2 linked regions of the Homo sapiens genome follow. The protein of the gene in region 1 interacts with the protein of each later gene in a pairwise test. Each region holds a gene or a part of one and is shown on either strand. Other genes may lie near its edges.

What was found.
Region 2: the proteins of RASAL2 (region 1) and SYNJ1 interact in a two-hybrid assay, tested with the Homo sapiens proteins (one large-scale study listed by BioGRID and IntAct).

The regions. Positions count from the first base shown.
Region 1 is NC_000001.11:178,100,337-178,104,166, reverse strand, and holds part of RASAL2 (ras GTPase-activating protein nGAP), read right to left. Parts: intron 1-3,830. UniProt on the Homo sapiens protein: Inhibitory regulator of the Ras-cyclic AMP pathway.
Region 2 is NC_000021.9:32,631,058-32,634,262, forward strand, and holds part of SYNJ1 (synaptojanin-1), read right to left. Parts: intron 764-3,205; coding exon of another isoform or gene 1-763. UniProt on the Homo sapiens protein: Phosphatase that acts on various phosphoinositides, including phosphatidylinositol 4-phosphate, phosphatidylinositol (4,5)-bisphosphate and phosphatidylinositol (3,4,5)-trisphosphate. Has a role in clathrin-mediated endocytosis.

The sequences.
Region 1 (3,830 bases):
ATATCTCATATTTAATACCAGACTGGATTAAAGATTTGAATGTAAAAAATAAAACCAACGAAGTACTAGATAAACCAAGAGAGAATTATTTCATAACCTCAGAACAGGAAAGCCCACTCTTTTTTTTGTCCCCCAAGGGTATTTAGGTACTTAGTGTATGTAGAGGGGGAAAAAAAAAGAATGGGCTTTCCTATTCTGAGGTTACAAAATAAAGGTCCAGAGAACTCCCAGGAAAGCCCATTCTAACATAAAATACATTCTGACATAAAACCAAAAAGCCATAAAAGAAAAATCCGATACATTCAATTGTGTAAGAATCATTTCTTCATAAGGGTGGGGGGAATACCATAAGAAAAATGAAAATACTGGCAACTGTTGCAGATAAAGGGTTCTTTACTTAAATACTAAGAGTTCCTTAGTATGCTTTGCTTAATATACTAATAGTTCCTACAAATCACTAAGAAAAAGATCCAAGAACCCAATAAAAATGGGCAAAAGGTATGTACAGTTCACAGAAAAGGTTATATTTAAATGACTCTTAAAAATGAAAAGATGTTCAATCACACTTAATGTAAAAGATATTAAAAAAAATTAAATTAAGACACCATTTTTACCTTTCAGATTGTCTGATCCAAAATTTCGTGATAATTCATTATGTGTGGGGAGACAGGCACTCTCATATATTGCGGGCGAAGTACAGACAGGTAGGGCAATTTGGCAATATCTTTCAAAATTACAAATACACGTACCTTTGACCTAGCAATTCTATGTATTTTTCTTACAGATATGCTCATACACAAGCAAAATGGCTTATACTCAAGATCATTCACTGCAAAATCACTTGAACTAGCAAAACTTGGGGAATAATTAAATGAGTTATGATTAATTCAGGCATTATGCAGCCATAAAAAGAATGAGGTACCTCTTTACAAAATGAAAGGAAAATATATCTGAGATACATTAATAAGTGAGGGGCGGGGGGAAGAAAGAAGAAGCAATCTCAAAGTGCAGATAAAAATCAGTTCTAATGGGTTATCATACGTGTAAAAATAGAGAAAAATGCATATATACAGTAAAAACCTATGATATCATTTCAGATATAAAGCAATTTACCGGCTCCAGACCCCCAGAACTCATGGCCAACTTCATTTGCAGGTTTGTTCTGGTCATTTCACTAACCTCACAGAAATATAACCCTGAATTTTTTGTAAACTAGATTTCTTGGATCCCACTTATGGCAGGATTTTTACATATCTATCTATCTCTACATTTGCTTCTATGCACGTGGAATAGGTATGGAAAGATACATAACAATTTCAAGTATTTATTGATTGGGAAGAGGGACCATGCCTGCCAGATGGCAAGTTGTAGAGGCAGGGAGGAAGAGTAAGAGAGAGCTCATGGAATATCTTTTTATACTCTGAATTTTGGAACAAAGGAATATATTACCTATTTTTTAAAATAAATAACATATTTAAAAAAATGTGTTAATGTTTTCAATAACATGAGAAAATACACTTAAGAGAAAAAAAGTAGAATGTAAAATATATGCAGTTTGATACCAAATATGTATTAATACAAAAAAATCTGTACACAAAAAAGACTGGAATAAAACACAATAAAATATTAAAAGAATAATTATCTCAGCCAGGTGTGGTAGCACACTCCTGTAGTCCCAGTTATTCGGGAGGCTGAGGTGGAAGGATCCCCTGAACCCAGGCAATGGATAATATGTAAGCTATGATTGCGCCACTGCACTCCAACCTGGGCATGAGCTATGATTGCGCCACTGCACTCCAACCTTGGCAACAGAATGAGACCCCGTCTCTAAAATATAATATTTAAAAAAAAATGATAGTTATCTCTAAGAGGTAGAATTACAAATGATTTTAATTTTGGCTTTTCCTAAAATTCTAATTCTTTATGTTAAGCACAAATTATATTCATAATCAGAAAAAGGGTATTAATTTTTAATGACAGGAATCAGAGGTTAGAAATTCAAGTGGAAGGTACAAAGTTATTAGGTATTATTCAGGGTTCTAAGCATCATATATGAAATTCAAATTTCCTTCAGACATCACTTCCAATCACAGCACCAAAAAAAGTATGCATAATAAGCTTAGGAAAAATATGAAAAAAAAAATCTCATCTGTCCTCTGGTCTATCTCTTAAGGATTACTATGAAATTATTTTCATCCTCCTACTTTATGGATGTTTTGTCCATTTTTGTTTTCTGTTACCTAGGTAATGGTATTTCCAGCATTTCCCTTAAAAGACTGTGAAACTAACAATCTGGTATTTCTCACTGTCGAGTTTTCCTGACCTTCAGCTTTGAGAGGCCATCTCCCTAAGGGAAGGCAGCAAGATCTAGAAGCTAAATCAGGAGGCTAAGGAATCTGAGGTTAAGAGTTCCAATCCTGACAAACTGTGGAGTCTGTCTCCAATTTTGGGAATAAGCTAAACTTCCTGAGCCAGTTTCTTCAATGAGAAAACCTAAAGGATTGCTTTGAAAAATATCAAAAACTATTGACTTTAAGGTTTCATTTTAACTTTTCAGACTACTCTTCCGAATTTTGTTATCTTATCTATGTTGAATGTTTTCCCCTCACTAAATTTTCACTCTCTCAATCAATATCTATAAGTATTACCAATCCCTTAGACTCAGGGATGGAGGTAAGGGGTACTTTTAGAAAGTCTGCTACAAGTGACACAATGTGAATGGAACTCGAGCAATGTTGAAGATAATTTATGGAGGGGTAAAAATACAATCAGGATCTAAACTGAACCCTTATGAGCAAAGCCAACAAAGACAATTAATTGATGTTACTAACACCTGGTAAGGGAAGGTAAAATTCAGACAGCTCATATCTGAACCCAGCTGTAGAGATTAGGAAAGTGATAACTTCTGTATCATAGTCTAGCAAATGAAATGTTTTTATGCCTTTAAGGGTTCAATTTTTATTTCTTTTGTTTACTGTATACTCACTAACACCACTGCACTGGGCCTCAAGACTTCTCTTTTCCCTTCTACTTGTGAACCACATTACTTCTTGATGGGCTGCCCTCTCACTATAAAATAAACTACATGAAATTTGCAAAAGGGTTTTCTACATGCTAGCCTTAAGAAGTACTTGACAGCCTTTGGGAAGAAAGGTGTTTTTACAAACATCAGACAGCAATTATCCCTCTACCAAGATAGGGTGAAGCAATTTTAGCAGTGCCCTTAGCACACTTCAAACTCCTCCTCCTGGTTAACAAGACCAAACAACTCTCTAGTTAGTTAAAAGTTTTTCCAATAGGGAGGGACAAGGGAGCAAACAGCTGAAGTTTTTCTGAATTAACTGTCATTAGTTGAATGCTTTTTTGTGGTTCACCTACTTAAAAGGTGATCAAATCACTTTGTGCTACTGAAGAAAGCAACTGCAAAGAACAATTACATAAACCCTCTATTTCAACTTACCTCATCCTTCCTTCTAATGAAACAAAGGATCCGAAACCACTACCTTGCCACCATTTCCTTAATAATCTTGGTAAAGCCTACTATGTCATGTGAATCTCTTTTCTTTTTCTTAGCAAACCACAGAAATTTCACTCACTATAGTAGGAAACACAACTGTACAACTTTTTTTTTTTTTTTTTATTTGAGACTGAGTCTCGCTCTGTTGCCCAGGCTGGAGTGCAGTGGCACGATCTCAGCTAGCTGCAACCTCTCCCTCCTGGGCTCAAGCGATTCTCGTGCCTCAGCATCCCGAGTAGCTGGGATTACAGATGTGCCACCATGCCCTGCTAATTTTTTTTTTTTTTTGTATTTATAGTAGAGACAAGGTTTC
Region 2 (3,205 bases), on another chromosome or scaffold:
TGGAGGGCTGGTGCCGGGCGGGAGCAGAGGGACAGGAGGTGGAGGAGGTCTTCTTGACGGCAACACACAGAAGGAGACATTTGTACCTTTATTCCAGTCATCATTCAATGTCAGGTTGGAGCCAGAAAATGAACTTGGCTGATTACCCAGTAAGTCTGAACAAGCTGACTTTGACTTCCCTTTCACACCAAAATCCTCTTCTTCCTCGAAGGTTACCCATCCTTTCGGGTTGCTAATTTTTAATGTAGACTGGCCCTGTAGATCAAAACTGTCCTTAAAGCCATCAAGTGAAGATGAAGCCCTGCTTTTGTTATGACCAAGAGGCTGCAGAGAAGGGAAAGGACTGATAGTAACGGGCTCTTCTTTGGAGAACCATGAAGTTGCCTCTGATTCTTCAGACTTGGCTCTAAATGGGTTTCCAGGAGCAGCAGTCCTGTCACTGAAAGGATTTGTCCTGGTCAAGCCAGTAATAAATGGGTTTGGAGAACTTCGCATATTTTCCTGGGATTGACTCCGAGCTGGAATTGGAGGCATTGTTGGCATGCAACTTACAGAACTCAAAACATTACTTTGCGTTGCAGAAGGCAACTGAATCAACCTCTTTGGGTCTGGGGTGGGAACAGGTGACGTTTGAACAGATAGCTGAGCCTTTGATACAGCAAGCAGATTAAATGACAGATCTTCAAATGGGTCAATCTTTAATGGTGATTCTCTTTTGCCATCAGAGATTCCATTTGTTTTTACCTGCAAAAGAAAGGGAGCACTGAAAAATCAGTTTATATTTACTCTTAATACCCCCTATTCTTCCTGTCTCAATTATTCTTCCCTTTTAGGGGCAAGCATGTAAATTTAGAAACTAAAAAGTAGCTTTGTGTAGTTTGTTACTCCGGTGGTTTAAATAACATGAAACACCTACAGTCTTTAAAAACTTCTTTCTAAATAAATCCTTTCTAATTAAATCCATTTTTAAATCCCTCAAAATCAAAGAGCTTATTTCATTCATGCAAGTTTTGAAATGGTAAGAAGGAGAATTGTACAGAATTAACAAATTTGTTCATGCCCAGTTCTATCACATTTCAGCATGAACTTAAGAAATCCATACTTATAACTTATGCTAAATCTATATAAATAAAATTCTAACACCCATCTATGATGATGATGTGGTTTCATTGTTCTTTTAAGTGTGTTTTCTAAAATTAATGTTACTATGGAAATTCAATTTTATAGATAAAATTAATTCTATTAGCATATTTTATTCCTAAGACGAAGACTCCATCTTTCTGTCTTCTACTTGGAAAAATAAATTTTGAGAGTTCTTTGCCCACCCCCTCTTTTTTTTTTTTTTGGAGACCAAGTCTTGTGCTGTCACCCAGGCTGGAGTGCAATGGCACGATTTTGGCTCACTGCAACCTCCACCTCCCGGGTTCAAGTGATTCTTGTGCCTCAGCCTCTTGAGTAGCTGGGACTACAGGCGTGTGCCACCAGGTCTAGCTAATTTTTTGTATTTTAGTACAGATGGGGTTTCACTATGTTGCCCAGGCTGGTCACAAACTCCTGAGTGCAGGCAATCTGCCCACCTTAGCCTCCCAAAGTGTCAGGATTACAGGCGTGAGCCACCATGCCCGGCACAGCTGACTTTTAATGTAAGCTCTCCTTTGTTGAATAAACTGAGTAATGTGAGGCTGGGCGCGGTGGCTCAAGCCTATAATCCCTGCACTTTGTAAGGCTGAGGCAGGTGGATCACCTGAGGTCAGGAGTTCCAGACCAGCCTGGCCAACATAATGAAACCTGTCTCTACTAAAAATACAAAAAATTAGCTGGGCATGGTGGTGCGCGCCTATAATCCCAGCTACTCAGGAGGCTGAGGAAGGAGAATTGCTTGAACCTGGGAGGCAGAGGTTGCAGTGAGCTGAGATCGCACCACCGCACTCCAGCTTGGGCAAGAGCAAAACTCCGCCTCAAAAAACAAAAAACAAAAACTGAGTAATGTGACAACTTTCCATAAAAAAATTGACCCTCCTGTCTTGTAAAAATATTCCAAAACAGATACACTATTAGTAACCAAATGCAACCATTGCTTAAAACCAGAGGAAAAAAAGTTCCATTTTCTATTTGGTTTATGAAGTCTACAACCACAATGATGTGCCTAGAGTGGTGCCTGGTCCCTTCTATGTGACAGAGTTGGCTGTGAACTGTTATCAGTAGGAAGAGTGCTTGGAATTCCTTCACTCCTGCCCTAAATCCCTTGGTCCCTACTCCATAAAGAAGGTGGTTGGAGTGGAGCACAGCCAAGGGACTGAGCAAAGACAAATGATCGGATGAAGGAAAAGAACTATGATTCTTGCCTCATAAGCAAATTAGCTTATCAGGCATACATTATTAATTTTGAAAAAAATGTATATAATTCTTAAAACTAGGGTAGATGACTTGGACACTTATGCTAACTTAAGAAAACTTCAGGGTTGGATACGATAGGGCAAAAAAAAATTCAGTTCAAGACTGGCAATGTAATAAAATGAGCACTGCCCAAAAGGAATTTGGATAGTTGTTAAAGCAACATAACTATACTTTCATGAAATATATTGGAAAAAAACAGCAGCAGTCTCAATAAAATGTAACTGCATACTATGAAACACTTAGTTACTGCTTAAGAATATGGAAGGATGTTCACTTGTAAAAGGAAATGGATGACTTAAGTGAATAACTTTCAAGTATCTGTTTTATTCAACTATCCTAGAATATGCTTTATAATTGGTTGAAACAGTATATTTTTCTTCAAACTTAGTGTGATAAATTTGTACAAAACTAAAGAGAAAACATGTCACAGACTTTAAACTGTACTCTAAATGTCTTAGGTAAGTAGACCTATATGTGGAAATGTACTTAAAAGGAAATTTATATAGATATTATAAAATTAACTCTATATTACCAAAAATCTCTGGACTATTTATAGTTAATACAAAATGAAATACTTCTGTCTGAGACAAAATTCTCCTATGGCAGATAGAATCGTCTGCAACACAGACATTATAGGAAAGGAGAATTTTGTGCTCTGCCAGCTTAGAACAGAAGTCACCTGCTGCATCAGTGCTATACATTTAAACACCTTTATTTGCATATATAAGAAAATTTTTATTTCAAAATAAGTTAATTTGATAGAATCAGGATCATTTTTCCCAGACTTGAAATTACAATGACAACCACA